7 separate regions of the Homo sapiens genome follow, and regions 1, 2, 3, 4, 5 and 6 are each reported to be linked to region 7. The links are microRNA targets in miRTarBase. Many come from high-throughput screens and were not tested one by one. Region 7 holds a microRNA gene; each other region holds the end of a gene's coding sequence. Distances are between the middles of the regions.
What was found. Region 7 holds the annotated microRNA hsa-miR-4662a-3p (AAAGAUAGACAAUUGGCUAAAU, at 1,708-1,729, shown strand). A microRNA usually pairs through its seed, bases 2 to 8, with sites in the 3' UTR of a target mRNA and lowers its output. Matches are read on the target gene's strand: a 7mer-m8 pairs with bases 2 to 8, a 7mer-A1 pairs with bases 2 to 7 and ends in A, and an 8mer does both.

Region 1 (4,520 bases), 94 Mb from region 7:
GCGGCGGCGGTGATGGCAGAGATGATGTGAGTGCCCGCCGGCTGGAGACCTGGGGCCGCGGAGCGCGGGACGGGCGGCGGCGGCGTGCGGGAGCGGCCCCGGGGGCGGCGGAGGGATGCGGGGAGCGCGGGCAGAGCCGGAGCGGCGGCCGCCAACCGGCCGGCAGTGGCTGGAGCCCCGCGCTGCGGCGCCGGGGGAGCCGGGCCCGGCGTGGGGGTCGCGGGCGGCGGCGGGGCGGTCAGGCCGAGGGGCGTCTGCGATTGTTCTCAACACCCCTCCCCCACCCCATCCCGTGTGTCTGTTTGTTACTTGCAGCTGAAGATGGAAAGAGCCAGGCGAAGGGGAGGCGGCGGCGGCCGCGGCCGCGGAGGCAAGAATGTAGGGGGCTCTGGCCTAAGCAAGAGTAGACTCTATCCCCAGGCCCAGCACTCCCACTACCCCCACTACGCGGCCTCAGCCACCCCTAATCAGGCCGGGGGCGCAGCCGAAATCCAGGAGCTGGCCTCCAAACGAGTGGACATCCAGAAAAAGAGGTTTTACCTAGACGTGAAGCAAAGCTCCCGGGGCCGCTTCCTAAAGATAGCCGAAGTCTGGATAGGGAGAGGCCGGCAGGACAACATCAGAAAGAGTAAACTGACCCTCTCCCTGTCTGTGGCAGCGGAGCTGAAGGACTGTCTAGGGGACTTCATCGAGCACTATGCCCACCTGGGCCTGAAAGGCCACCGGCAAGAGCATGGCCACAGCAAAGAGCAAGGCTCCAGAAGGAGGCAGAAGCACTCGGCACCCTCCCCACCAGTCTCGGTGGGGTCCGAAGAGCATCCTCACAGTGTCCTGAAAACAGACTATATCGAGAGGGACAATAGGAAATATTACCTAGACCTAAAGGAAAATCAGCGGGGTCGCTTCCTACGGATTAGACAAACCATGATGCGGGGGACTGGCATGATAGGTTATTTTGGCCACAGTTTGGGCCAAGAACAGACTATTGTCCTCCCAGCACAAGGAATGATTGAGTTTCGTGATGCCTTGGTTCAGCTGATTGAAGACTATGGCGAAGGAGACATAGAAGAACGAAGAGGTGGAGACGATGACCCGCTTGAACTCCCAGAGGGGACTTCTTTCAGAGTGGACAATAAAAGGTTCTACTTTGATGTGGGCTCTAATAAATATGGAATTTTCCTGAAGGTAAGTGAGGTGAGACCACCTTACCGTAATACTATTACTGTTCCATTCAAAGCTTGGACAAGGTTTGGGGAGAATTTTATCAAGTATGAAGAAGAGATGAGGAAAATTTGCAACAGCCATAAAGAAAAGAGAATGGATGGCAGAAAGGCCAGTGGTGAAGAACAAGAATGCCTCGACTAGAGTGAAATTGAACTCCATCAGGCAAAATTTAAAATCACAAATTGGCTAAAAGTACTGATCCATTATCCTTTGAAGAAGTTTTTCCTCTTTTTTGGCCCGTTGTTATTAGTAATACCTCTAGTAGTTGATACTTCAGGAAGTCTGATTCTCATGTTATGTTACACATAGATCACTATAATTCTTACGGGAATTCCAACCTTCCCAGAGCTAAATAGTTTAGCTGCTTCAACTGCTCCAGACTATTGAAGTATGCAAATCAGCACAAAATGTGACATTCTGACATTCTAAATACCATAACTAAGATTTACATTGCACTATGACATAATCCCGAAAAAAGATACATATACTTAAATAGAAGTGTGACTTTCCCCCAAAAGTATTTCAATTCTACTTCATTAAAAGCTGCTAAGCTTACCTGTAGGGCAGTTACCACAGAAACAGAAATTGACCTCCGGTATATATAAATATTTACTTATAAAAGTACAAGTAGACGTATATTGTCCGTTGAATAACTGAATATACCATCAAAGGATCAAATCTTATTACCTAATTAAACCTTAAAAATATAATGTCATAATATTTCTTAAGAATACTATAGTATTCTATAATTTCAAACTTTGTGGTAACCCTACATTTTATAGTTGCCATATCAAAGCCATGGGAGAGTTTTAATTCGTTATTCTAAGTTTAGTTACAATCCCTTCTTTACCTCTACTTAATGTTCCATATATTTTTATTGACTTTCCAAAGTTTCAGGAATTACTTTTATGTCACATTGAGTGGGAGGCTTCATCCAATGGCTTTGCTATGGAAATCTTGGTGGTGTAGCTTTTCATGCTAATTTAAAGATTGCAAGAGGTTTCTTCCCCAAAATATATCATGGACTCAAGGTGTTATACTTTATGCTTCTTCTTTAACACTCTTTCAGAAGGGTTGGTGTACCAATTAACTGATATAAAAATATACCTGTAATAATATATTTTAGTAGCACTTTTGCAATTGCTACCCTTAAAACCATGTCAACACTTCCAATATAATCCTGAATTTTACAGGTGTTTTAATTCTGGAGGGGGTGGGGATTTTTTTTTTCTAAAAATAATTTAGAATACAAATTTCCAGTCTGAGAAAAATATTATTTGAAGATTGGTTATAAATATATTTGAAAGGAAAATTCAGGCATTTTCCAAGGTGCTCTTTCTGACTTTACACAAGACTCACCCATTTACCTGTATTAAAAATTACTTTCCAGGAAGTGCCACAGCAATTTTTCAACACCTAAGCAATTTTTTAAACAAGTGGATATAGTGTTATATGTGTACCAACCCATCCTGTATTAATTGACTGAAATTACATCTATTCAGCTATATTTTCTTCTGAATGAAATTATTGTCTTTTATCTTGGCTTTATTCACCTCCCACACAATAAGTCCATCTAATCATATTTAAGAGCCAGAACACTGATTTCAACCCCCAAATATCACTCTCATTGATGAGAGCTGGCTGCATGGATTCAAATCAGAATGTAGCTCTTCTTTTATATGCTAAAAGTAATTTAAAATTATATCAGCGATTTTTTTCTTCCAGAGTTTTGTCCCCCAATACCTTTACGTGAGGTCACTAAGAAAACTTGATGGTATGAATTAAAAAAATTAATTTCATTGGTTTATGTTACTTAAGAACAAGCAATCAGTAACCCCGACATATATACTAGTGTTGGTTTGCAGATTGTATTTCACATTTCCTCTAGTAGCGTGAAGGAATCTCATTAGTTCATTATAATTGTGGACCATCTGGATCACTATGGAACAACTGAAGGTTAGGAGATAATGTTAGTACTAGAGCTAATAGCACATGGTGGGTGTTGAGACTCTAAAAGTAGCAAGGATTTTTAAACAGTCCTAACTGTAAAATAACTATGTAGGCTTGCTAAAAAAGTAGTTTTTGGTCTATGAAGGAATGATGTGCACTTGAATTACTGTACTACTGATTGTTATTGCTGCCCATCATAGTGCCTATTAATAATAATCAACCTGTCAGATTTTGGCAAACTGGAGCTGTGAATATTCTAGTATTTGATTGTTCCTATCGCTATTGCTATGAGTGTATACACTCTCTTAAAGTCTTCCTTTCTAAAATATTTATATCCATTAGGTCTAAATGATTTCCTTTTACCTTTTGGGTCTGATAAGATTTGGGTATGTGTCTATATCTATATATATACACACAGACATATGTATATACATGTATACATATATATGTGTGTATACATACATACAATACCATGTCAGACTTAAAGATAAATATCTTTAACTCATTGTATATAAACATTATTAAATTTAGTTTTCCATTAATTATTTAAGTAAAGAATTAGTTAAGCAGCCAGATTTTCTACTTTGTATGTATACTTCAAAGTTTTTACCATCTCAAAGCTGCAGATTAAATAGATGCATATATACTGGCAATTGAGTATACTCTAAAATTATTAAGCCTTCTGCCAGTCCTTTTGTTTCATTTTTTTCATAGTTAATCATTCAAAAATGAGATGATGCTATGACTTTTTGATACTTAAAATTCCCAAGAATTCATTAGCCGTAATTAAATATGATCCAGTTCAAAACTCTGGTCTTAGGACATGTATTGCCATGTATCTTATAAAATAAGCTACTATTCTTATCTGTGCAATATGCATTTTATTTATTGTCATTTGTAACATACATGGAGCTGCAAGTGTTCATGGTATCCTTCAAAATAACAGAATCCCTGCCTTGAAGACATTAAACTCTTAAGGCAACTGGAAGTTAGAAGTTAAAAAATGAGCATGAAAGTTAGTAACCAAAAGTACTAGTTCACTGTATAATTCTAAAACACTGATGATGTTTGCACCTAATAATCCAAGCATAATGTGGTACAGGCTCAAACTGTAGTAATATAAGCTAATAGTATGAAATTTGGAAACGGGTTCCTCTTGATAGTTGGCAGTGTGCTCCTAGCAATCGAAAGCAGCACTAATCTGTTGCTTTATGCAAAAGATGCAATGTATTATAAAGATATTAAAGTTCCTCTACATTTTATAATTTTCCTTGTTAAAGCCCCAGACTGCCATGTCCCTGAAACTTGAGTCAAACACAAGCTTATTTGCACTAAAGAGCATGGCC
Region 2 (4,520 bases), not on the chromosome of region 7:
TAGGCCTTGGTAATTTTTCTGTAAATAATGATAAATGTAGTGAATTTGTCAAGGTATCTCTAGAGAAAAGTCGGCAAAAGCCACATACTTTTTTATTTCACTGGAGAAACTAACTCTGATGTTAGTCCATAATTGCTCATTCTGTCTAGCTAACAGAAAAAGAAATGCCAGCAGATAAAGTGATATATGACCAGACAATTGCTCAAAGCTAACCACCTAAGGATTTACGAAAGGAAAAGGTAACCAGTAACTGGGCCTGGCAGGCACACAGAAGGCTCTAAATAAATGCTGCATGGACGCAAGCATGAATGAAGGGTACGCAGTGGCCTCATTTTTCCTTTGGACAATGTGGTACTTAATAGAGTAAAATCTTGATCCTACTTAGTTATTATGTTTCATGTTTGAAAATACCATTTTAGATATATTGGGCTGAAAGGAGCATCTTCCCTCATAAAATCCTACATATGTAAGGAAGGAAAAATACTGTGACTTGCTCAAAATCACCCAGGAAGACTGGGTCCAGCACTTTTTCCACCTTACCTCCACTTATTCTTGTGTCGCTATTGACCATCTGGGCCTGTTAGGAGAGTGTCACAATCATGGCTTCAGTGCCTGCACCTCATTTGAAAGGAGATGTTGAAAATCATCAGAGTAGCCATTCATTGCCACATGAAACCCCTCCCTTTACCCATTCTCCATTCATTCAACTCTTCTTCATTAAGAACGTTCTGTATTCCAGGCACTGGGCTAGGCACTGAGGATTGAATGATAAACAAGATGGTCAAGTTTCCTGCCCTCCTATAACTGCCCCCATCAGTTAACAAAACCCTTATTTGTATTTCAAGTGAACAGAAATACCTCATTCTGTAAGATATACTCAGAATGTTGGAAAACCCCAATGAAGACAATGAATTATAATTTCAGAAGAATAAGATCAGTTTCAGTGTCACAGGATTTTTTATTGTCTGTCGTGCCTTTACTTTTCCCAGCGAATCCCTCCCGCATCCCTAACGTAGATCCTGATTTCGTGGTTGAAAAGGCAACTTCTAAAACACACGTTTTTACAAATTGTGATTTTAATTGTATTTTTCCTTTTGTCTTCCAGTCCTGGTACCTGGGATAAAAGTTGCAGCGTCCCACCATCCACCAGACAGACCACCTGACCCCTTCTCAACTCTGTAACATGGACGCAACCTCAACCCAGCGCAGTTACAACTTCACTATCAGCGGAAGGGGAGAAAAACCGATTCAAATCAACTTGTACATGGAAACAGCAAGCATTATGGTCAAACAGCAAAGGCCATAACCTTTTGGGATTTTTTTTTTTTTAAAATACTTTAGGGACTGTTGTAATTTCTCATATGGTGCTGGAAATGGTTGGGCTTTGTAACATTTGAAGTGTTTCCATGGTAGCGTGAGCATTAGGTGACGTGGCTAGCGGAGGACTACCCTTGCTCACTGACTTCCTGTTGTAACACACTTTCCTTACGGAGCCTGGCTGTTTCACAGTATTTCATGAATTTACCCACACAGGTGTGATCCTCCTTGAGCATTGAGGAGGCACATGGAGAACTAAATCTTTTGTAGTAGCTGAGATCTGCAATATATAACGGGACAGTCAAAGGGCAATGTTTTTCTGTAACATATTGGAAAAAGAAAATGCAGTTATATTCCTTTTTTATTTGTTCCTTTAGTTTGTTTTGGTTCAGCAGTCAGCAGTTAAGTATATAACATGGCCCGCAAGGACAATGAATCCACTCACATTGCAGAACAATTCCGAAAATGGCAAACTACTACTACTACTGTTCAGTTTTTTAAAAGTTTTGAAATGCTGCACTTACATTTAAAAAAACAACAACAACATTTTTTCAACAATTTCAACAATGACACAAAAATTCACATGGAAATGGGGAAGATGGTCTGTTTTGACAGAAACTGACAGGAATCAATCAAAACAATCGAATTTTGAATTGAGTAAAGTGCAATTTCATTGGATAGCTAAATATCTTTGTAAGATAGAGATTGTTGAAAATTCTATTTTTGTTTTTCTAGTCCTTTCACCCCAGGACTCTAAATTATTGGGGTAAAAAACAGCCTTGCAAGAAAAAGGGGAGCTATTTTTGCTTTTTATGTTTTTTATTGTTAAACTTGTATCCCTTTAAAAACTGAAGGAAATTAAAAAAAAAAAACAAAAAAACAAATCTAATGGTGCTTTTACCACAATATGTTAACTACATTAAATGCTAATTAATTATTTTCTGTTATCAAAGCACATGACTAAAATGAAATCATGGTATCTGTTAATTTTATAAGCTAGAAGTCACTATAATGGATTACGCCAATTCTAAAAAATTTTACACCTATCTGGCATCATAGGATTTATCAGTTATCAGACACCTCATTGTACCAGAGATTGTCCAGAAGTTTTAAAGACCTTTGCATCCCTGAACTGGGCTATGGGAAATAATAATAGTAATAATAATAATAATAATAATGATGAAACCAATACTGACACAAATGCTGGTGCCCATTCAGATCAAGGGTACTTGTTAGGGAAAAAAAAAAAAGTTTGCACCCCCAAACGTCCTGTATCTTATGAAAAAAAAAACAAAAAACAAAAACAAAAAAAAAACACAAAAAACCACAGAAACAAAAACAAAAAAAAGTGCAAGTGATTTTTCTACCAGACAGCGAAGCACCCCTTTGCTTCCCATGCGACTTCAAGAAGGTTTCCTATACTATACATATATATACGTTCTGGTTGGCAAGCCCTGCTGATCAGAGAAAGTCTCTGCATGTTCTAGTGTTAGTAACTAATTTTTATATAGTTAATGTAGGATAAAGTAGAGTGCATTAAGACACAATATTGTAATCCCTACTCTAGGCACTTGCCTTTAAACTATGTTTTTCAGCCCTTCAGAAGGGTTCTACTACTGTCCTATACAATCAAGTAACTGAAATTCTTGGGAAGACACTTTGCTCCTCATCTTTCTCCCCGAAACAATGTTGTTTTGTTTTGTTTTTTTTCCTTAATTTGCACGAAAACAAAAATTCCATATCAATGTGCCTTGCCCTGGATAGCGATTATTTGTGGAATTGTTGCACATGCTCCTCTATTGAAAGGGGTTTTTCCCTAGTCAAGCATTTGGAGACACTTTTTGTAAATGTGACTTTTATGTCAGCCATCGTCAGTTTCAACATCTAGAACTAAATAGAAAGCTAGTTGTTCCGCAGATAGGAGTAGTCTTTATTGTCCTGTACGGTCGGTGGCAGTGCTATTCTGAGATCTGTAGATGCTTAGAATATCAGTATTTTGGATGTTGCTGCATTTTACAATTTATTTGGAGTCTTCCTTTATTTTCCCCCAGATATATGAAAATATGCAATACCTGCTTATATCATGTAGAAAAGCTTAGCAATTATTAATTTTTCTTTTATTTTTTTTTATTTGACCAAAGTCGGTGCTGCACTTGACGCAGTGTGTTTTAGGTGTTTGTCTTTGTACTTTTTTGTGATTTTTGAATGCACGTGCGCAGGAAGGGCTCCTCTTAGAGAAGCAGTCAAACTGTGAAGCACTAAGCTGACCCTGCTTCAAGCAATTTTGTTTTTACAACTGTTCCTTTCACAAGCAAGCCTTAAAAAAAAAAAAGACAACTTCCTTTTTCTTCAGCTCCCACACCCCATTTTTCTTAGCAGACTGCAGTCAATCCACATTCAATAAAAAGTATATAATGCCCATTTTTATATGCACGTTTTTAAACTTCCAAGTTCTGAAAATTGTTTACTGGTTATCTCTATTTAAGGAAAAAAAAATAAAATAAAACATTTTGGATTTTCATATGTGTCTGATAAGTGGTTGAATAGTCGTTTGGCGCTGTTGTATGGTGTGATTGTCAGTGTATGGTGTCACTTCCTATAGCCAGCCAGCATACTTTGCCTTCCCCTATAGCACTTAGCTGGGCATTACTTTATTATGACATATGTGCACTAAAAAATGAAAAAAAGGAAAAAAAGAAAAAAAAAAAGAAAAAATAGCAGCTTTCAGTGCTTCACAGTGAAGGGAAAAAAGCCTAGACAAACATTTTGTCAGAACCTTGCAATAAGCCAAGGTATTACCAGTAAATTGGTTGTATATACAATAAAATTGCACCCTTTTTTAAACAAAACAAACTAAGCAATAGTTTGGGCAGTTTTAGTTGTTTTTAGTGAGCATGTTGTAGTCATGACTGCAAAGAGAGAGAATAAACTGCCCGCTCAGAAGATATGTAATTTGTATTGTTGTATAGTTTTATTGATTACACTGATTTATTCTACCCTATTTTATAATGCAGGACTTTTGTAATGTTGTTTAAATGAGGAAAAATTTCTGTCAAATTAGCCTAGTAAAATTTCTGATCGTTCATTATAAAGGCAGCGTTCATAGAATTGCTTTTCTTTCTTTTTACCCCCCCTTTGGGAACTGGATTTAAGTTTAAAACTTTCCTGTTTCCTTTTTTTTTTTTTTTTTGTAAGTATTTAAA
Region 3 (4,520 bases), not on the chromosome of region 7:
ATTTTGAAGAGATACCTGTTCTTTTTGTTGTTTCTCCTCTAAGTCTTCACCTTTCCAGGGTGGAAAAATAGTCATATGAGTCAACCGTTAACCGCAGAGTTTGGAGAGGAGTGGGAGGGAAGAATTGGGGGGCGGGGGATGTGTCCCTCTGCTGAGCTCTTGATTCCAGTTCTTTACTTTGGCCTAACACTCTGGAGATTCCAAATGGTTCTGCGGAGCATGTGCTATCCATGGTCACTGCCTCTGGGCAGAGTGGGCCCTCAAGCACTCCCCCTGCCTACAAGTGCATGATGGCAGCTGAGCAGGGGGAAAGGATGCTGTAGCTGCTAGAGGTGAATGTGCACCACCGACCCTGCCTGCTCACAGGGGCCTCTCAACTTGGAGGTGCCCTGAGTCAGCTTCCCAAAGAAGCAGGCTTGCGGAGCCAGAGTGACGTGGGCCCAGCTATATGGACAGTTGATTTTAAGATGGGGGACATCTAGGCCAGGTGCAGTAATCCCAGTACTTTGAGAGGCCGAGGTGGACGGATCACTTGAGGTCAGGAGTTCAAGACCAGCCTGGCCGACATGGTGAAACCCCATCTCTACTAAAATTACAAAAATTAGCTGGGTGTGGTAGCATATGCCTGTAGTCCCAGCTACTCGGTAGGCTGAGGTAGGAGGATCACTTGAACTCAGGAGGTGGGGGTTGCAGTGAGCGGAGATCGTGCCACTGCACTCCAATCTAGGTGACAGAATGAGACTCCGTCTCAAAAATAAATAAAAAATAAAGAAATGATGGGGGACATCTATTATATCCTTCTTCAGGCCTTCCTCTGCTTTTCTTCCTTTCAGGCCAACCAGGATCTCCCAACCCGAAGACAGCAGGCAGCCCAATAATGTGATCAGACAGCCTTTGGGTCCTGATGGGTCTCAAGGCTTCAAACAGCGCAGATAAATGCAGGCAAGAAAAGATGCCGCCGTTGCTGCCGTCACCGCCTCCTGGGTCGTCCGCCACGGGTTGCACTGCCGTGGCAGACAGCTGGACTTGAGCAGAGGGAACGACCTGACTTACTTGCACTGTGATCCCCCTTGCTCCGCCCACTGTGACCTTGAACCCCATGCACTGTGACCTCCCCCCTTCTCCCCCTTCCCACTGTGATTGGCACATCGACAAGGGCTGTCCCAAGTCAATGGAAAGGGAAAGGGTGGGGGTTAGGGGAAGGTTGGGGGGACCCAGCAAGGACTCAGAGAGTCAGACAGTGCCACTTGGCCACTTGGGGTAAAGCCAGTGCCAGCAATAACAGTTTATCATGCTCATTAATTTGGGATTTCAAAACACAAATGAAAACTCACACCCACCCACCCCCAAGTGCATGTCTCCATCACTTAAAAAGTAAGTTCCATTTGAAAATATCCTTTCTTTTTTTTTTCTTCCTATTTTTGTTTGTTTATACAAATATCTGATTTGCAAGAAAAAGTGCATGGGAGGGGTTTTAGTGGTTTAATGAATTTTTAATTAAGAAAGGGTAGTTTGGTAGTCTACTTAAAAATGTTTCTGGGAAATTCACTAGAAACATTAACCAATAGGATTTTGGTGAGCTTAGCTTCTGTATTCCTACTGCCGCCCAGAAAAGGGGCAGGGCTCTGCAGCCGCCAGGACAGACGAGCACCCCATGCCTATACCTCCCTCCCCGAGCTAAGTCCCAGGGCATCTGGGCCTTGCCTGGAGACTGGGCTAGCTCTGTAGGCTCGGAGAGCCTGGGGAGGGTGCCAACCCCACCTCTAGTATTTTGGGAGATAGGGAAAGTGAACCGACTTCCCCTTCCCATACCCCTCAGGGTGGTTCCCTACCAGCCAGGCTTACTACTTCTAGAAGAAAGCAGAGTGCCAGGGAGTGAGATTGCATCCCTGGGCTTAGAAGTGACGGAGAGAAGACTTGTTTAGTATTTTGCCATCAGCACAAGGAAAACCAGGAGAGAGTCTGCCTCCAGGACTCTGAGCCTTCTGCCTCGTATGTTCAGAAGGTGGATAGGTCTTCCCACTCCAGCATGGCTTGAACTCTTAGGGGTCTGCAGTGCTCCATCTCCATTGGTGGCCCCAGCTCAGTAACTATACCTGGTACATTTCCTGTGTGCAATCAGTACCTTGAAGGCAGAACATTCTGAATAAAGTTGGAAAAAGAACAGCTTTGCTTTGCAAAGATTGATGACAGACTGGTTCCTCAGAGGCCTAGGCTACCCGTCACCCCTTTTTCCAGAGCGAGGGCCTGGAATGAAGGCAGTTTATCCTCTGTCCCTGGAGCCTGGGGTTTGCTTTGGCTCCTTGAGGTGGAAGAGACTAAGAGGGCAGCTGCCCAGAGCAGCTGTGTGTACCTGGCTCCTCTCAGGCTTCCTGATCCCTTCCGTTGCACTGCGCCTTATCCCTCAGCCAGCCAGACAGCCTCCCTGCTCCTGACCAGCAGATACGTTTCGGAGTGGTTGGTGTGGTTTTTGTGATGAGGGCAGCACGTGGTGGCCAAGGTGGCAAGCTGAGTCTCACAGGCTCACTCCCTCGTTGGTTCCCTGTGGGAATGGTAGGCCAGGCCCAGTAAGCCATGCCCCAACACGTCCTCTCCTCCGGAGGAAGGGCCAGCTGCCAGCTGAGTCAGCAGCTAGTCCATAGCACAGCCTTATAACTGTAAAGCCAGGCATTGCCCATGAGCAGAGCTGGAACCAGAGCTTCAGTCAGTAAGAGGGAGGATTACCTTCAGGAGAAGGCAAGGAAGAAAACTGGCTGCTATCTTTATAGTTCCACTGCCCTAACCAAGTGTCCACATTCTAAATGTGTAGTGTCCATCCCTTATGTAATAGTGGTTTCCCGCCCAAAGTGAGACTTTCCTTTTAATTGGAGAAGGGTATAGAGGTAGTCCAGGTGGGAACGCCAGAAGTGCTGATTGCCCAGCCATTGGGACCACCTGTTCTTGCCCCACTACCCTCTAGTGGGAGGCCAAAGTAAAGGCTGGCTGGTGGGTGTCTGTGGATTGAGGATGTGGCAGGGACTGGTCCTCCCACCTCCCTCTGGCCAAAGATGGGCTTTGCCCGCTGTGTGCCTGTCACCACCCACCAGCAGTCATGCCCTGGGCTTCCCAAATGGAGAGGTAGCAGGCAACGTTTTTAAAAAGAAAGAAAACAGGAAACTGTATTGTGTCGGGGGAGGCGGGAGGGAGATGAGGAAACGGTTTGGATTTTGTGTGTGGGAGGGTATTTTTTGGGGGTAGTTGTCTGTAACTTTCCTAAGTGCTTTTTTTCCTTTTCTTTTTTAAAGTAAGTTGCAGGCTTTGGCTTGGAAAACCCCAGGGGGATGGGGGGCAGAAACCTGAGGCTGCTGCCCCTTTATCTGCCTTCACGGTACTGTCCCCTTCCCCCAGCTCCTCCCTGACCCCATGGGCCAGGCCTCAGACCTTCCAGCTAACCGCTTCCCATGAGCCACTACTCTGATGTCAGCCTATAACCAAAGGAGCTGGGGGGTCCAGGCCTGGTGACCAACCTTTCTCAGCCCACTCAATCAGGGTGCTCCCCACCTGCAGGCAGGAGGCAACACCCTATCTGCTACCATCAGCCCCTTCCAGAGCCCATCTGCCCCGCCCAGCCCTGCCCTGCCCAGCCATACCCTGCTCTGCCCCATCTGGGGGTGCCCTGCTCAGGGATGGGCTGGCAGGGCTGTACCCAGCCTCCCTGGTAAGCAGAGACTCAAGAAACCTCTGGGGTCCTGTTTTCTGGTCGTGTGATCCCAGGGGTGCACATGGGCCCCTTGGGTGTCTGAACAGAAGGGCATGGGAGGGAGGGCTGCACCCCTGCAGTCTTACTCTGCTGGTGTAGCGGGCAGCTGCCCACTCCCACCCCACCCTGCACCGCGGGCTCCTGAGTCGGCAGATTAAGCATTTTATAAATTGTATTTTAAATACATGTTTTAAACTTGTCAGATCTTTGTCCTCATTTCAGTCCCTGCCCTCTACCTCTTGCTGTGGCCGCTTATTTAACCCTGGGGGATTTCCCTCTGCCCAGTCCCAGGGAAAGACTGTCTTTGGTAAAACACGAGGCCGGGTGGTATGTGGGTTGAGGGGAAAGGACCCACCCCTCTTGGGGCTCCCAGAGAATGAGAGCCCTGGGTCCTGGGGCTCTGTCGGGGGAGCATGCAGAGGCCACCTCCTGCTCTTCCACAGGGCCTGTCTTAGAGCCAGTGGAGAGAGAGAATGGCTGCTTTTGTGGGGCTCCCAGTCCAGAGGGGGATGTGCTCACCTGAGGAGAGGCCTAGCCCTGTGCTTTGAGAAGGCACAGAAGGTCAAGACTGCACGCAGGGGCACCTGTAGCAGAAATCCCAACCCCGCGCAGGGCTTTGAGGTGGAACCCTGCACTCTGAGAGCCCAGTGGTGGCTGGGTGACAACTTGAGGGCCTTTCTTGGCAAGAGGCACAGAGGCTGAAGTTATTGGTGTTTATTAGCTCACCAGGCCACAAAAGCAAATCCCAGCAGCAGCTCCTGCCTGGTGGCCCATCTGTCTA
Region 4 (4,520 bases), not on the chromosome of region 7:
TGGGTTTATCCCAGGTGTGGAGGGTTGATTTAATGTTTGAAAATCAATGAACTAAAATAGACCACCTCAGTAGACAGAAAAATTATTTGGCAAAATCCAACACCCATTTCTGATAAAAACTCTCAGCAAACTGGGAATAGAAGGAAACTTCTTACCCTGATAAGGGCATATATGAAAAACCTACAGCTAACATCATATTGAAAAACTGAATGTGTTGCTCTTAAGATTAGGAACAAGACAAAGGTGTCTGCTCTCTTCACCACACCTGGCCGGATTTTTTTTTAAACTGTTTTATTTCAGTAGGTCTAGTTGTTCATCTTACTGGATTTCTTATACACTATTCTGAAACCTCTTGTCTTTGTGTTTAGATCATTTGGGTGTCTGAGGTTTATTTCTTTGATGTTTTTCATCAAAGCTGCTCAAAATACGTTATTGGTTTTCTGTGCCATTAAAAGTGAGCTCACTTCATGTTCTTGTTGAATTCTAACTGAAGCTCATTTCTCCCCTTTTTATTTTCAGATATTTGTATCTGCTGTTCTCCGGTGATGACCTTTTACCTTTAGACCACTGGGTGTTTAATACAGAGGCTCACCCTCTGCCTGTGTTACATTTAGCCAACACCACACTTTCAGGTAATCCTGCTGTTCGATGAAAGCAGTTCCAGAAGGACCATTCTCACCTGTGTTTTGTTTACATGGACCACTACAGAAATTAGTTTGAAGGGGCGGCTTTTGAAAACCTGGACCTCTATGTCAACATGACAGGGTGAAACTATTCCCCCTAAGACTGTTCAACTTGTAGATACATCAACTTTGAAATTATTCCATTTTATACCTGACCAAAACATGTTCTGATATGTGTAGGACAGAGACCTGGATGTGCTTTGATCGTTAATGAGGTGGTCACATGAGAAATGATACCTGTTACTACTGTATTGTTTTTAGAGTCCTGAAGTCTGGAGGCTAGACTTCCTGAAAGCAAGTCAAGAATATAGAGCACCTTGCAGGAGTTCAAGATGGCCTTTGGAACCAATTATGTATTTGTTTCCTCCTACAGTGGAGCAGCATTCAAATCAAATATTTACATATTGCTTATCACTTTTTCTCCATTTTAATAATGGAATGAACTAAAATAAACAAGAACAAAAGAATAGTATAATTATATCAGTAACAAGAAGACTCAAAAAAGAAACAGGAGTACCTATCCCTATCTGAATTTTCAAGTTCCCCATTGGATGACCAGACTGGCAACCATTTCAAATCCCAGTCTATTTCATTGAAATTTCTTGGTTAAGTTTAATTTTCTCTGGGGGCATGATCTCACAAAGAATACTCAAGTCTTTTTCTTCTTATGGAATCATCGAAACTGCTATTTATCATAATCACCACTTATGAGCCTGGGTTTGGGATTTTGTGCATGTAGTTCAGTCTAGTGTTGGTAGCATGACAGAAAGTGGGGAAAATGCCGCAGTTTGTTGCCTTGAAACCTAAGAGCAATCCTTGGTTTTGTTGCTACATTATTTTTCCAGACCAACACATCTACCAAGTAAATTTTATTCACTTTAATTTCATAATAAAGTTAGTAGAGTCACTCAACTTACAACTTTATTTATGTGGCTTGGCAAAAATCACTATAAGGCAGCTCTAAATTTGCCTTGATAAGCTAAATAAATTACTTTTATAACTTACTAAAGCAGAACAAACAGTGAAACTTTCTAAAATATTCTATCTGGAATAGGGACAGGGGATCTTTTATTTATAATCTCATCAGATGAGTGAGTTGTTCACAGATATTTTATGTTTTTTTAATTTTCTCCAAGAATATTTATAGAATTCCAAAGAATCAGAATAGTTTCAAAATAATTTTCAGTGATAAAAGAGTGTTGTAATTAATCATATTACACTAAAATTGGGATACATCTAAGGAACTTTATCTTACTATCAGTAGGTTTTGCATTGATATTTCTTTTTAAATAAACTACTAGTTCTTTATATTTTGACAAAAAGAACTTAAATTTTATCAGGAACTGTAAGATAAATATCTAGTGCTTATAAATTTTCTGTCCTTAAATTTATGTGACAGTGCAAGATACTTTTGCTCTTTTCATTTAATATAGGCATCTTCCATTGACATTAATAAAACTTAGAAACAGTATAATTAGTATAACATTTACTCTGAATTTGAAGATTTCCTGAAACAAAGTTTGTACAAGAAGCCCACCTTGGAATTCTGAAGGCTTATTTTCTTGTTTGATAAGCTTTTCTTTTAAACTTAGGTTTTAAGTTGGGGAAAGACTTAATTAACTAATATAGTATTTTCTAAGGTTGATCATCTTATACCACGAATCGTTAATTTTGACAGTTCTACTGATCCGTAAATGATAACCACTGCAAATTTTTTCAGTATAAAATTTTTCACTGCAAAAAAATTTCAGTAGAAAATAAGGATGCAGGGCCAGTTACAATAGTCCTTAAGAGAGTTAAATTATAGCACATGTTTTGACATTGTAATATCTTTTACTACTTGAACATTTAAATTTCTAAATGAGAAAGGTATATATATTACTGTAACTGTAGAAGGGAAAAGGGAAAGTATTTGGTTCTAAAAAATGTTAGCCTTCCTCGTAAAAGTAGCACAAGCCCACTTATGAATCACTGAGAAAAAGTGAAAAACTTGAGTTGGCAAAGATGCAGAGCAGCAGTGCAGATGGCAATGAACTCTCTGAATTCTCTTTTACCTTATTTAGAAGAATGCAGAGTAAAGGGACCTTCTTGGTTCTGCAGGAACTTCTCAAGGGATGAGGAGACAGAACCCCTACTTCCAAGTGCTCTATTTGTATTACCCAGATGACTGAAGCTTAAGAGAAGGCAGGGAAGTATACAAGCAGAGCCAGTTCTGGTACAAACAAAGAATTTGACAGGGACAATGGAAGGGTCTTCTTCACCACTCCTTACCTTCTATGTGATGGAAAGACTAGAGCTTATAAAAGTACTTCCATTTTTTTATTCTCCTGAATACCAAAGGCAATTAAAGTCAGCTACAAATGACTTGCCAGTGTCATGTTTTATTTTTGTTATAGATTTTTAAATTATTTCCTTCAAGATCAATTCTTATCCCATATAATGCTTAGCTTCCAAGAATATTCTTTACTTTCTTCTGTCTTTTACAGCTCTTTGCATTTTGTAGACCTTAATACTCAGGTTAAATATTCATTGCATTTATAAGATCTTCTGCAAAAAGCCCAGAAATGGTCCTTTTCAGGTGCCTCTTCAAAGAGCTGACACCTTACCTTGTGCCTTTGGCACAAATGTGCAGAATAGATACATCAGTTGGTGCATAATCGAAAAAAATAGGAATTTTGAACACTGTTCTTCCTTCTACATTTATTTCTCTTCATTTTAGAATCACACTTTTTATGTTAAACCAGATTATTATTATTATTATTATTCAACCAGTATTAAGTTGTTAAAACCAAGGGAATGGGGCCCTAACCAAAAAGAAGTCTCAACTCAGAAAAATAAGTCCCCAGTCAGGTGGTTCTTACTTTCTTGTGGGTTGCACATTTTGTATCTCTCTAACATCAGCGTATTCCTGACTTTAAGCAGGTGTTTATATGTAAAATAAAACCTGGGTATCGAAGGGAAATGCATTCTTTTTATGGAGTATTGACCCTGATCCTCTATGATGTCATATAGAGCAACTCAGGGCTATACTTGCTAGATTTTAACCAAGCAGTTTGAAATATTAATCATCATCCTCTCATCTTCTCCACTCTCCATTGCCAAAGTCTTTGTCAAAACTCCAAATTTGTTGATAAAAGATTGTGTTTGCCATTCTCATTTATAATGCAGTTTCTCCTTAAGCCTGGAGTTTTTTGAATGAGTGCATGAGTAAATGAGAGAATGTGTGAACGAACATTTATGAAGTATCTAACATGTGCCAAGCATTGTGCCTGGCACTTTCAATCATTAGAATGTTTTATGTGATTCCACAGCATTTTCTGTATGAGAGTAGCTCACAACATTTTAAATGTTTCCAATATGAATCGTGTTACAAAATTCTTAATTTTATATTTCATATAAATTAAAGAGGAAAAAGAAAAGGTTTATAATATATTTTAAAACAATGTGTTACTGTATAATACAACTATAATTGTAGTTAATAACTAAAACCTCTTGAAAATGTCAAAGAAATACTTGATTTCTGATGCAACTTTGACTAAAATATTTACTTTAGAAATAAAAACGTTCTTATTTTGCTATATCACTTTAATTGCATAATTAAAAAGCAGTGTTTTATAGAAATGCTGGTTATTTTATATTCAAAAAGATTTTGTCACATAATTCATGGGTAAAACTTGCAGTTGTAAATTGTGTCTGCTCTGGTATGGGCCCTATTAATAGTCCCATGCTGTTAAATATAAAGAAAAATATACTAAAATATTCAAAGTTCCAAATAACAGTTCCTAGTAATAGTATTTTGAGTTATTTTTCTTTAGGTTTCCTTATACTCAAATTGGC
Region 5 (4,520 bases), not on the chromosome of region 7:
CCCCTTTCCTTTTCCTCCTTCCTCTTCCCCTTTCCCTTTTCCCTTTCCTCTTCCCCTTCCCCCTTTCCCCTTTTTCCTCTTTCCCCTCTTTGCCTTTCCCTTTTTTTTTTTTCTTTCCCTTTCCCTTTTGACAAAGTGCCCAGGCTGGATGCAATCACAGCTCACTGCGACCTGCACCTCCTGGGCTGCAGCAATCCTCCCACCTTAGCCTCTGGAGTAGCTGGGATTACAGGCGCAGACCACCACACCTGGCTAATTTTTGTATTTTTTGTAGAGCTGGGGTTTCAACCGTGTTGCCCAGGTTGGTCTCAAACTCCTGAGCTCAAGCGATCTCACCCGCCTTGGCCTCCCAAAGTGCTGGGATTACAGGCGTGAGCCTGGCCTGCTTTCTGTTTTCAAGCCTTACTAAATATAATAAATAGGGTAGGGTTCTGTCTCATACATATCTGTATTCCTGATAAGCTAGCGTAGCATAGTTTCTGGCTCTTGGTAGGTACTCAGTAAATATTCATGGAATAAATAAGAAAGAAGGATTTGGAGTATTAGAATTAATTGTGACATAAGTTAACTTACAAGCCTCCAAATTATCAGGTAGGCCTAGGATTGATTGGTCATTTATATGGAGATTTTTTTTTTTAACTTCATTTCTGAAGAAAAGATTTGATGCTGCTGAAATGTCAGAATTAAGAGTATAATTTTGGGCCTGAAACTGAAGCTCTTTTCTAAGAATTGACTGTCCAGTGCAAAAATTAAACTCACATTCATTCGAAGAATCATTGAAGCTTTAGAATTTTATACATGAGGATACCAGCTTTTATAGTTACTCAATTGGTCAGTAGCTACACAAATCATCTAATTCTGAACTATCTGTGTGTGTGTGTGTGTGTGTGTGTGTGTGTGTGTGTGTGTATATGTATATGTATATACACACACACATACAGGTTTTTCTGCATGTACGTGATCCTCTAAAATAATGGTTGATGTTTATTAAGCTTTTCTCCCCCTCCCCTAAAGTAGAGTCGTGATCTATTTGACATGATTATTTAGGTACAAACTAGACTATTTAAAATAAACTGCTAATGGACTTTTAAATATGTTGGATAAGTTTCAAGAGGTGGGCAGTGTTTTTAAAGCTCAGTAGATCAGCATATGTTATAAAAAAGCAATTAAAAAATTTTAAAAGTCATGTGTGGCAGGGACTGGCTTCCTTTAGAGTTGGATTAATTTTTTTTTTCTTTAATAGCTACAGAATCCAGAAGTCAGATTTCAGCAACAACTGGAACAACTCAGTGCAATGGGATTTTTGAACCGTGAAGCAAACTTGCAAGCTCTAATAGCAACAGGAGGTGATATCAATGCAGCTATTGAAAGGTTACTGGGCTCCCAGCCATCATAGCAGCATTTCTGTATCTTGAAAAAATGTAATTTATTTTTGATAACGGCTCTTAAACTTTAAAATACCTGCTTTATTTCATTTTGACTCTTGGAATTCTGTGCTGTTATAAACAAACCCAATATGATGCATTTTAAGGTGGAGTACAGTAAGATGTGTGGGTTTTTCTGTATTTTTCTTTTCTGGAACAGTGGGAATTAAGGCTACTGCATGCATCACTTCTGCATTTATTGTAATTTTTTAAAAACATCACCTTTTATAGTTGGGTGACCAGATTTTGTCCTGCATCTGTCCAGTTTATTTGCTTTTTAAACATTAGCCTATGGTAGTAATTTATGTAGAATAAAAGCATTAAAAAGAAGCAAATCATTTGCACTCTATAATTTGTGGTACAGTATTGCTTATTGTGACTTTGGCATGCATTTTTGCAAACAATGCTGTAAGATTTATACTACTGATAATTTTGTTTTATTTGTATACAATATAGAGTATGCACATTTGGGACTGCATTTCTGGAAACATACTGCAATAGGCTCTCTGAGCAAAACACCTGTAACTAAAAAAGTGAAGATAAGAAAATACTCTTAAAGCTGAGTATTTCCTAATTGTATAGAATCTTACAGCATCTTTGACAAACATCTCCCAGCAAAAGTGCCGGTTAGTCAGGTTTGTTGAAAATACAGTAGAAAAGCTGATTCTGGTTATCTCTTTAAGGACAATTAATTGTACAGACACATAATGTAACATTGTCTCAACATTCATTCACAGATTGACTGTAAATTACCTTAATCTTTGTGCAGACTGAAGGAACACTGTAGTATACCCCAAAGTGCATTTGCCTAGGACTTCTCAGCTTCTCCCATAGGTAGTTTAACAGGCATTAAAATTTGTAATTGAAATGTTGCTTTCACTGAAAAAGTGTCTTGATGTTTCAGTTATTTTTAATCGCCATAAAAAAATAGAACTATCTTTTGGGTTTATCTGTTTTCTCATGCACAGGCAATACACAAATTTAAAATGAGTTGTGAGCCAATTGTTTCTGAAGTGTTTTGGTAGTTCTATTAAGAAATAGTTAAATATTGTGCTTTTCAGAGCCTCAGAGAAAGGGGGACGGGGTGGGGGGGTGGGGCAGCGGAATCTGTCCTGGATGGGGCCAGCTTAAATAATACTGGCAACCAAGATTCTGTTAGGATTTCTGTGCATATAGTGTAGTAAAGAAGTATCATTCAGGGGTGAAAAACAAAGAGCCGTTTTAATGATGTTGAGTACATTTGGCTGTTTTATAGCCTTTTTCTTCCCTCCCCCAAAGAATTCTGTTTGCCTAACTCCCAAACTGTTGGGGTGGTACATTCCTTTAGGACCAATTAAAACATAATTGAGGGTCAGTGATACATTTGGCTGACTCTGGTTCAGTATTCTCTTAGGTGATTATATTCTCTCATGTACAGTTACAGGAAATTAAAATGTTAAAGTAACCTAAAATGAATTCAGACCAATAAAATCAAGGGAAATACAAGTTGATTGCATTACTTCTGTATGTTGCTTGCTATTAAAAAGGTTAAGAGGCCAGGTTACCCACCAGTCCTTGCACTGTTCTGACACTTTCCCCAGGAGGAAAACAAGTACAAAGGTTACGGTGGAGGCATAAGTAGAAGAGATTGTTAAGAAGGGTATTCATGTGTCTTTGCTCTTTCTGCTTTATGCCTCAGTTTGGTTTAAAAACTTCTGTACTGGCAAATGGTGGTATTCAGTGTGGGATAGTGTCATAACTAATTTGACAATTTATTAATCATAAAATAACAATAAATCTCTAGCTTTTACACTTGATTTGTCTTGCCTCTTTTGTAGAAAGAAAAAAAGTCTTTAACTTTTGCTAACCATGTGTTTTAAAGGCTATTGGAGTTGATTTACCCCAGATTTTGTCACATTTTACATTCTTTATTTTTCAGGTTTTCCAATTAAAACGTCACAGTCTTTTGTGGTGTGATAAAAAGATAGCACACTGGGAAGGTAGGTGACTTGAGCTCCACTTTTGATCTTGGTACTTGACTAGTTATGTGACATTGAGGCGTCATGGTTTCTTTATTATACATGTGGTGGTGAGGCTTATAGGTGTGCTGGACTGGGCGATAAGCTCTGAAGTACCTTTAAGCTACTGCAGTGGTATGGTTTTTGTTTTTAATATGTTTATTTAGGTCTAAGTCTAAAGATAAATATCTACATCTTAAGGGGTTCAAAATACTTAAAATTCTTATCAGCACTTAAAGGATGTTTAAAATACTGTAGGCTTAAATTGTTCTCATATTGAGTGATAATATTTAGTACAAATTGAATAAAGAATGGGGTAGTGAAAATAGCATTTCAGGATTTTATTTCCCAGTTATAATATTTGCGATATCCTAAACAAAGTCTAGCAAATATTGAAAAATCAGATAAATGACACCTGGCCTCTGTGTGTATTTAGAATCTTGAGTTTCAGACTTGGTTTAAATATAATAATGAAAAGAGTCTTTTATTCTTACTATGTTAATTTAATAGGCATATATCACAACAAAATATAACAATGGATAACAATATGCTAGTGACAAAAGTGAAGCTAAGCCGTGTGTGCAATGACATACACATGATTAACAAAAAAAAATGACTCTGTGATTAATGCAGGGAAATACTGCATATTGTACTTCTTCTCATAGAGATTAATATTATATTACAATTAACAGGAAGTCTTGCATGAAAGAAGTCTATTTAAAGTTTTATCAGCTTTTTCCAGTCTCACTAGACCATCTTTTAACTATTCTTTAAGGTGATGCTGTATACAATGAACACCCTTCCTATACTTCGTGTATCTACCCTTCTCTGGTGTCGCACATGGTATTTATCTACTTTGGCTCCTATAAACCCTACCATTCTTTCTGGGCTCAGTTCTGAAGGCGTCCTAAACTTTGCTGATCCAGTGTTTGGGAAACTCTTAACTGTTCATACTTAGTCTTTACTGTCAATTGCTGCATTTTGCTCCCCCCATTCACCTTGTAGCATTTTGTTTTGTTTTTTATTTTTCTGCTCTAAAATTGTCTTGGCAATTACCTAAGTAACATCAGTTGTTCCTCTTCAACTTCTCTGTATCTTT
Region 6 (4,520 bases), not on the chromosome of region 7:
CTTCTCTGGGGCATGCAAATGACAAAGAAAATAGTTTTCTATTTAGGTTGTGTGTATATATTGTATGTGTTGGTTTCTCTACTCTTTATGAGATACTCATTAATCTGAGAAACCTTCCGAGTATTCTTCATGATAAAATAAAAAAATATATTTTACAATAATTACATTGAAAAAAATCCAAGAAGAAAAGTTATGGATGGAAGCACTTACTTTTAGCCATCACTCAATTTCTTAAATTTTTTCTCTCTTTCACTTAAAGATCTGCCAAATTGTGTTCCTTTTATTACCTTAAATAACTGTCAAGAAAACAAGGTTCTATGAACCAGGACAACAGTGTGGCAGAAACAGTAGTAGAAAGGTTATTTCCAACCATTTAAAACAACTATAACATCATTTCACATTCAACTGACAACCGCAGCTTAAACTTGAGAATGGACAAGGGAATAATAATATACATTTTTCTTTTTCATTATTTCGTCTTTATCTTATGCATCAGTATTCTTACGAAGGACCTTTTTTTCTTCCATTCGAGACTGTGTGCTTTATGAACTGAACAGATGTTGCCTTTCATGTGATTAAACAATAATTTTTTCCTGCTCATACTTCTTAACCAATTCCTACCTGCCTCTCATCATGAATCATTGAAGATAATTCTCCAGTCATGCATTTAAAAAAATCTACTTGAAAGAAAAGGTCAAAGAGAATTTTTGAATTGACCACTTAATTTAAAATATGTTGCCATCAATTAGCCAGTGCTATCTACTTTTCTCCTAAGAACAGAAAGAAATGACTCCAATGATTTTACTTTCTTTGCTTGGCTTAATATCCGTGGATCTTGCTATCTTCTCTTGAGAAGAACTTGGCCTTTCATTCTAATGACTCACAAAAGAAAAGGCAATGACACCTGGGGCACATATGTTTTTCTAAGTCACTTGAAAATCTTTCACTTGGGAAAAAGCTGTATAAAAAATCTGGGCCTGGTCAACTTAATATAGATATTTTAAAACAGTAGAACTAATGGCAATAGAACACCTTTTATTTTGGGGAGGAGATGGAAAGTTTAAAGATGTAAGAAGTAATGCTTGATTTTTTTAGATTTTACTGAATATATAGCAGTATCCTTATTGTTTTCAGGGAAACTAGGAAGAATTGGAGAATGTGTAATAAAACTGCACGATTTGACAGATTTAGACAGCTGGCTCCCTCACAAGAAGTTCACATTTTGTTAATGTCACCCACGTTGAATAAGGGACAATTAGATGGTAAGGTCCATTTACAAAAATGGTTGTCAGGACATTTTTTTTTAATTGTAAAACTTTCTGTGATGGAATTCAGTAAAAGGGCTATGAAGAGAAAGCAATGGAGACAAAAGATTGCTATTAACCTACAGATGCAGGCTACTGCATGGTTCATTGCAAGATTTGTCACACTGTTGGGCCAATGAAGTGTTAGTGTGACTAGAAGGGACCACCCCTTTTCTGGGGTAAGAGGGCAATTTGGTCTCCATGCTCATTTAATCCTGAGACTTCTTTGAATAGACTGTCAATTGAATCTAAATTGTGCAAAATTATGCATGCACTTTTTAATGCAGGCTATTGTTCACTAAGCACTGAACCAAGATTTCTCAACCCATTTCCATTTGGCATGAGGTCACTTGAAACTTAAGTAATCATATATGGAAGACAAGAGCAGTGTACTTAACCAATCTTTCTACATTGTGGCTTCTATATAAATGCTTACTGGGCTTTAATTGCAAATCTCTCACCTTAAAACAATAGAGAAATACTAGCTACAATATATTTTTTAAATTGAGGCTTGTATTCCTAAAGGTAAGGAGAAGGTTTAGAAAGTCAGCTGGCGCTGCATAATCTATACTGCTCTACAATTTAGATTCTAGAGGAATGGATGTTTACAGAAGAAGGACAGCCATAGTGGGTGTGCACTTGTCATGAGTAGACGTGTTTTTTCACTAGTGCAAAGAGGCCTTATATTTTGTTAAAATCCAAACGTGGAGAGCTGGCTTTGAAAACCATGAAGAAAAATATCTACTAGACTTTTTGCAGTTTTAAGTCAGAACATGTCATCTCTGTAAAACCCTGAACAGAACATTTACAGAAAATTTATTGATACATTAGCCAAAGAGTATTTTCATTGAGTTCTGAAGGAACACGTACATTTAAAGTCATATTTGGCAAGAATTATTATGTTAAAAATTTGTACAGGTGACAGCTTACATAGCCAAGATTTTTAAAAACAAGTGAGCTCTTCTCCAGTGAGGTTCGATTCAGTGGAAATCTGCAACATTCTAATAACATAGACTCTGACAGTCTTGCTATGGTGAAAAGCACTTTACAAATGTTTAATGCTGGAATTTTATAAGGATTGGCTGTTTTCTTGCTTTTTCATCCGTCGTTAATGATTACATGTTGGCACAAGGATACCTTGCTAGATTAGATCCACAGCACATTAAAGACTGTTTGCTTTCTCACTCCCCTTCTTTCCAATTAAGTTGGTGAAAAATGTAACTTTAGTGTTTTACAGGACAGGGTAAAGGTGTTTCATCTAGGTGATGTCTATATTATAAAAATAAAATAAAATATATAAATATGTAACACAAACCCAGTGCCTATTGTTAAATAAAATATACAATAAAAGCAGACCTTTTAGGAAGATTGATTTTAAAATATGCTATTATGATTTAATTATAAAACACTTGAAAACAATCTTGAGATTAAGATGAAATAACCAGATTTCTCAGCCAATAAAAAGGTAAGTGTGTAGCATTCTGTAACTGGATACACTGACAAAAATGAAGATTACAATTTTATATCAAGTTGCTCACTTAGAAATTCATCAGGGAGTTCTGAAACATTCTCTCCTAGTATAGTACTTTAATATAAAAATATTGCCTTTTTTTTAATTAGATCCATCGGATTGCACAGTACTGTTTCAAAACTCTATTAAAGTTGACTTTAGTGATTACAGACAGAAAATTCCTGGGAAGTCAAATAATCTCTTCTAGTAACATAAAAAATCCATTATCAATTTACAATGGAATTTCTGTGTAAATTACTTTGCATAAGGAAGTATATATTTTAAAAAATCATCTGTTATGCAACAACGCATATAGGGGTTATGAGTATGTGTATGTGCATATGTGAACAAACATGCTGACATACACACAGAGGATCTGCACATTTCTGGAAATTATTTTTAAATTAATAAAAGAGAATGAAATCACAGGAGTGTGTAGCAGGATAACAGTCTTTTTTTTTTAATGACAGGATAAAAAATAAATGCCCATTGGAATAGAATATTCAAACAGTCCCAGAAACTATACAATGTAACTTGTTAGATCCAGCAAGTAAGATGTCATGTCAATGATCTGATCAAGAATACCTGCCCTGGTCACTCTGCGGATGTTTCTGTCCACTTGTTCACATTGAGGACCAAGATATCCTTTTTTACAGAGGCACTTGTTCGGTCTAACACAGACACCTCCATGACGACATGCTGGCTCACATTTTGCTGGGAGAGAAAAAGAGCAAGAACATCACACTCTCATTCTGTATGTCAGAAACAGGACTGAGCATGAGACCAACAAATATTTGCTGAATAAGGGAAGCGAGGGAAAAAAGGAGGGAGATAGTTACAAAATGATCTGAAAGATAAATATGCAAGTAGGAAACAGGCTTTTACACCCATAGTTATTTGGAGACCTGAACTCAGCAGAGAATGAGAGACATTTCTAGAGAAGCAGAGATCATGAGAAACAATTGCAACCCTTTGCAAAATTAACTCTATTTAAAATGAAGATTTTAGTCCTTTGAAATCTCTGCTTCACAGGAGCATTCTCTACAGAGGGCCTCCCAAGCTCTATGTTCCCATTCCTTCAAGGTAGGATCTCAACATGGGAGTGGCCCAGCCTGAGGGGGAGACACAGAGGCTCAAGCAACTCCAGTGCAACAGAAAGGAACAGTCAGTTTTGGATTTTGGTTGGGTGGAATATCCACCATATAAACTCCCTTGGATTCTTCCTTCCTCTTGCTTCCAGGGGGCAGACAGCATATGCTTTGCTCTCTGATTACACTTAGAAGTCTCTTTCTGGAGTCAGTGCAGTTGGCCAGCAAAGGATGTTCTGAGCAAACCTTTTCAGGGTTACCCTACAGCACAGAATTTATTCATTAAAGAATTTTACCACTACAATATAAATGGGAAATAAGAAGATATACTGCTAAAATGAGACATAAAATTGGGTATATAAATTGCTATTTTCTGATTAAATCTGGGGAGTACAGTCACTGGGGATGGAGTCAAATTCCTTCAATACATTTCCTTATGTTTTGACGAGACAGGGTCATTTTGACCTTTCAAATGCGTTAATCAAATTCCAGGTGTCTGTGGTTGACACATGGGATAGAAAAAGTAAGAAGAAAATAAACAATTTTATGCTTTAAATCTGTGGGAGATGAGTAAACAATGTGAGTACATGAATAAAATTCCTGTTTAGGTCCAAAACA
Region 7 (4,520 bases):
TTTTCGTAGAGACGGGGTTTCTCCATGTTGGTCAGGCTGGTCTCGAACTCCCGACCTCTCGTGATCCTCCCAAAATGCTGGGATTACAGGTGTGAGCCACTGTGCCCAGCCTTTTCATTCTCTTAATAGGGTGTTTTTCAGAGCAAACATTTTTAATTTTGATGAAGTATCAAGATGCCTCAATTTTTTCTTTTATAAATTGTGCTTTTGATTTTAAGTCTAAGACCTCCTTAACTTAGCTCTAAGTGCTAAAGATTTTCTCCCATATTTTTCTCTAAAAGTGTTGAAGTTTTATGTTTACATCTAAGTCTGTGATCTATGTTAATTTTTGTATAAAGTTTTAAAGTATGAGACTTAAGTTAAAACAAGAGATTTTGTTTTGTTTTGTTTTTTGCTCCAACACCACTTGTTGAAAAGAGTTTCCTTCCTTCATTCACTCGCTTTTGCACTTTTGGTATTTTTGGTAAAAAATCAGTTGAGTATATTTTTGTGGGTCTATTTCTGAGTCCTCTATTCTGTTTCATTGATTTGTGGGTTTATCTCTCCACCAATATCATACTACCTTGGCAACTGTAGCTATATAGTGAGACTTAACACAAGGTAGAGTGCTTCCTCCTACTTTTTAAAATAGTTATCACAGCTATTTTATTTTCAAAATTTTTGCCTCCCATACAAATTTTAGAATAAGCTTGGCTTTGTCTACAAAATCTTTTTGGGATTTTGATAAGAATTGTGTTAAACTATTGATAATTTGGGAAGAATTGACATCTCCACTATGATGAGTCTTCCAGTCTATGAACATGGTATTTCTCCTCATTTATGTAGGTCTTTATTTTTTCATCAGCATTTTGTAATTTTCATCAGAGACATAGTATATGTATTTATACCTAAGTATTTTATTTTCTTTGAAGTGATTGTAAATGGTATTGTTTTTAATTTCAGTTTCCCCATGTTCATTGACAGGATAAACAAATGCATTTGATTTTTGAGTGTTGATCATGTATTCTGTGACCTTACTTAATTCACTTATTAATTCTAGGAGGTTTATTTTAGTTTATGTTTTTTAGATTCTTTAGGATTGTATAAATAGACAATCATGTTATCTGCAAATAGAGATGATTTTATTTCTTTCTTTTCAATCTGTATGTCTTGTATTTCTTTTTCTTGCTATATTGCACTGGCTAGAACTTCTACTACCCTGTTGAAGAAGATGTTGAAAGCAGACATCTTTGTCTTATTCCCAATCTCAGTGGGAAGACGTTCAGTTGGCACCATTAAGTATGATGTTAGATGTTTTTTTTTTTTTGTAAATGCTTTTTCACAAATTGAGATATTTTTCGTCTGTTCCTACTTCAGTGAGTTTTTTTGAAAAATAGGGATCATACTTTGCTTTCACAGGATTGCTGTGATGATTCTAGGTGAAACATAAGTAAAAGTTTATGGCTGTTGTGGGCCCTCAAATAAGGTTTAGAAAAACAACCTTTGGACAACATTAAGGCGAGTCATTACAACTTAAAGTGAAACCTTCTGTAGACAAATGATCTCACATCTTCACTTCTAGGTATCTCTTCTGAAGAAACATTGGCTCATGTCCCAGAGATTTATATACAAGGAAGTTTACTGCAACCATGGCTGCAACAGAAAAAGCCATTGTGTACCACAGTGTCTATTTAGCCAATTGTCCATCTTTAGCTATTCTGAATGCCTAAAGATAGACAATTGGCTAAATAGAAATTGTGGTACATCCATACAATGGAATACCATGAAGCCATCGACAAAACATCAAGATTCTATTGACCAACATGGAAAGAGTGCCATGGATGGGCACGGTGGCTCACACCTGTAATCCCAGCACTTTGGGAGGCCAAGATGGTTATATCACCTGAGGTCAGGAGTTTGAGACTAGCCTGGCCAACATGGCGAAACCCTGTCTCTACTAAAAATACAAAAATTAGGTGGGCATGGAGGCAGGCACCTGTAATCCCAGCTACTCAGGAGTCTGAGGCAGGAGAATCGCTTGAATCTGGGAGGTGGAGGTTGCAGTGAGCTGAGATTGTGCCATTGCACTCCAGCCTGGGCAACAAGAGCAAAATCTCAAAAAGAAAAAAAAAAGAGAGAGAAAAAGTGCCAAGACACAAGGTTAGGTGAACAAAGGAAGTCTCAAAACAGAACAATTTGATTTTATATTTATAAATGGCATAATATATAAATATGGCTTATAAATTTATACTTATATCTACATACATATAGTATATAAGTATGTATTTTTAAAACCCAGTCATATATTGTAAACACATTCCTAAGTGCATAGAAAAAGGCCTAGAAGGACTTGACACTCATTTGTTAACATCGGACATCCTTCGGGAAATGAATGGGATTGGGTAGAGTACAAAGGGGTACAAAAGATCACTTTAAAAAACTTTATAAATATATTTGGTCTTTAAAACATTTTTTTACAATGATAATGTTTATATTTACTATCTGTTTACCTAAATAAGACTCAGGTAGTATGGGGCAGGGAGTAGCAATTTCTAGTGGTAAAATTTCAGACAATTGTTTTCCATAGTCACTGGGACCCAGAATTCCTGAGCTCTCTTTGTTCTATTGCTGGCTGCAATATTAGTTGTATGATTTTGGACAAGTCACTTTCTCTCTCTGGGCCTCAGATTCCTCTTGTAATGAGGAGATTAAACTAGAGTACCCATGGATAAGCATTTTTATTATTCACATTTAAGCATCTGACCTCTCTTTGCAAATAGGTTTTTGTATGTGGAACCTTTATGTATACAACAGAAGAAAGCATGTCAACAACCCAACTATTTGTACCCCGGATCCATTTCAGCACTAACGTTTTCTGACTGGAGTTGAAGGCAGTGAACCCAAAGCCACCCGTCAGAACTATACTGCCCCTCAGCTGAGTGAAAAATAACTGGGTGATTTCAAGTGACCCACAGAAGCTCAGGAGTGACAGTTGCTCTCATAAAATGTGTTCCCTGAGCATTAAGCCCTGGTGTTGGCAGGGTCTGATAGCTCAGGGACTGTTTGAGCTCCAAGGAGATCATTACTGTTTCTAGAGAGTTCTATGAGGACCCTGGGTCTTTGGAAGAACTATCCATTTGTGGTTTTTAGGAGAATCAGGTCCTAGATCACTGAAGCCACAGCCCATGGCCCAGAGCTGTAGCTTTACTGCTTTGGGGCTGCAGCAGGGAGGCGAGGCCACCTGGGGAAGCTGAGGGCAAGAGTAGAGGTCAAGTGCAACACACAGCATGCTGTGAAATATGAGAAAGGCTCATAGTGTCTTTTCTTTGAAATGAAAAGCGCCATCTCGAGTTCTGTGGAATTGGGTCCAGCCTTCCTTGGCTATAACAGGCATGATAAGGATCATTTTGCCTCCTTTAGGAGCAGGGCTAGATGTCCTACAATTCTCTGCATTAGTTGAGCCCATGGACAGTAACAGCCATAGTCTGAGATATAAAAAAAAAAACAGCACATCGCCCAGAAAAAAGCCTGGGCCCTGTGCTTTTGGGATTCTATTCGCACGTGTTTCGGACTGGCAAGACTCAAACCCAGAAAGAGGGACTCCCTGAGAGGGGAAAGGCGGACGTGCAGGGCCACTCTGGCCTAAGTCTTCTCTGTGGATCGAAGCAGAAGGTAGGAAGCCGGTGTTTTATACCTCCCTGCCTTTCCCTGCCCATTTGTGGGATGGAGAGCTGGGGGCCTGGGTGAATGACCTGTTGTAGTTCAGGTCCACACTCCTACCAAGGCACACCAGCATGGAGGGCGGGAGACCTGGGCTCAAGCCCCAGTTGGGCCACTTTCTCATCGAGGCTAGTCACATGCCTTTGCAGGTTCTCAGTTTCATTGTTTTTAAAAAGACCATTAGATTAGATACTTTTAAAGGTCCCTGCCAGTAACACTCAGTGATTCTAGAACTAGATTGTAAGAGCCTGGCAGGGTTCCACTTATTTGGTAAGAGGAAAGGAATAAGCTATAATGGTTAAGTGTGTGGAAACTGGAATTAGATTTCCTGAGTTCAACTCCTGATTCTCCTTTACTTACTGTGACTTTTGGAGAAGGTTTTTAATCTCTCTGAGCCTCAGTTTCTACATTGGCAAAATGAAAATAAGAGCTGTAGTTGATGTTGTTGTTTTAAGGGATGCAAATGATAATCTGAATGAAGCTTCAGGATCCAACAGAGTAAATGTTCAATAAGCCTTATCTTATTGTTTTGTATTTCCCCAGTTTAAGATCATAACAGGAACTGGCTAAAATTACTTCTTGATAAAACAATGCCCCTTACCATAGATTCAATTATCCTACAGGCCAAATCATGTGCCCCATGAGGTTAATTTGTTTATTCAATACTAATTAATCAATATTTATTGAACATCTTAAGTGTGGCAGACACTGTGACAGGACTGAGGATGCAAAAGCATCAAGATCTTATTATAGGGCTGGGCGCGGTGGCTCACGCCTGTAATCCCAGCACTTTGGGAGGCCGAGGCGGGAGGATCACTTGA

Region 1: miRTarBase lists PURG as a target of hsa-miR-4662a-3p. The part of its 3' UTR that is shown has no 7-base or 8-base seed match.
Region 2: miRTarBase lists NFIA as a target of hsa-miR-4662a-3p. Seed matches in the 3' UTR shown: 7mer-A1 at 2,590-2,596.
Region 3: miRTarBase lists SZRD1 as a target of hsa-miR-4662a-3p. Seed matches in the 3' UTR shown: 7mer-m8 at 2,757-2,763.
Region 4: the mRNA of MAN1A2 is a reported target of hsa-miR-4662a-3p. Seed matches in the 3' UTR shown: 7mer-A1 at 1,931-1,937.
Region 5: the mRNA of UBQLN1 is a reported target of hsa-miR-4662a-3p. Seed matches in the 3' UTR shown: 7mer-m8 at 2,358-2,364.
Region 6: miRTarBase lists HHIP as a target of hsa-miR-4662a-3p. The part of its 3' UTR that is shown has no 7-base or 8-base seed match.

Annotation. Positions count from the first base shown.
Region 1 is chr8:31,028,584-31,033,103 of GRCh38, reverse strand. It overlaps PURG (purine rich element binding protein G), which reads left to right. Exons shown (of 2, transcript NM_001323311.2): 1 at 1-26; 2 at 316-2,254. The coding sequence starts at 322. The coding sequence ends at 1,365. Among named protein-coding and RNA genes, the nearest start is that of PURG, 2.5 kb to the left of the region's middle.
Region 2 is chr1:61,454,198-61,458,717 of GRCh38, forward strand. It overlaps NFIA (nuclear factor I A), which reads left to right. Exons shown (of 11, transcript NM_001134673.4): 11 at 1,106-4,520. The coding sequence ends at 1,123. Among named protein-coding and RNA genes, the nearest start is that of NFIA-AS1, 200 kb to the left of the region's middle. RefSeq lists an enhancer at 1-321.
Region 3 is chr1:16,394,205-16,398,724 of GRCh38, forward strand. It overlaps SZRD1 (SUZ RNA binding domain containing 1), which reads left to right. Exons shown (of 4, transcript NM_001114600.3): 4 at 834-3,941. The coding sequence ends at 936. It overlaps SPATA21 (spermatogenesis associated 21), which reads right to left. Exons shown (of 13, transcript NM_198546.1): 13 at 4,439-4,520. Among named protein-coding and RNA genes, the nearest start is that of SZRD1, 29 kb to the left of the region's middle.
Region 4 is chr1:117,522,306-117,526,825 of GRCh38, forward strand. MAN1A2 (mannosidase alpha class 1A member 2) reads left to right here. Exons shown (of 13, transcript NM_006699.5): 13 at 520-4,520. The coding sequence ends at 652. Among named protein-coding and RNA genes, the nearest start is that of TENT5C-DT, 81 kb to the right of the region's middle.
Region 5 is chr9:83,658,663-83,663,182 of GRCh38, reverse strand. UBQLN1 (ubiquilin 1) reads left to right here. Exons shown (of 11, transcript NM_013438.5): 11 at 1,244-3,215. The coding sequence ends at 1,396. Among named protein-coding and RNA genes, the nearest start is that of IDNK, 38 kb to the right of the region's middle.
Region 6 is chr4:144,736,772-144,741,291 of GRCh38, reverse strand. HHIP (hedgehog interacting protein) reads right to left here. Exons shown (of 13, transcript NM_022475.3): 13 at 1-3,528. The coding sequence ends at 3,335. The region is part of intron 1 of LOC124900791 (a long non-coding RNA gene); the gene reads left to right. Among named protein-coding and RNA genes, the nearest start is that of HHIP, 93 kb to the right of the region's middle.
Region 7 is chr8:124,820,320-124,824,839 of GRCh38, forward strand. MIR4662A (microRNA 4662a) reads left to right here and starts at 1,666; the gene lies at 1,666-1,732. It overlaps MIR4662B (microRNA 4662b), which reads right to left and starts at 1,739; the gene lies at 1,659-1,739.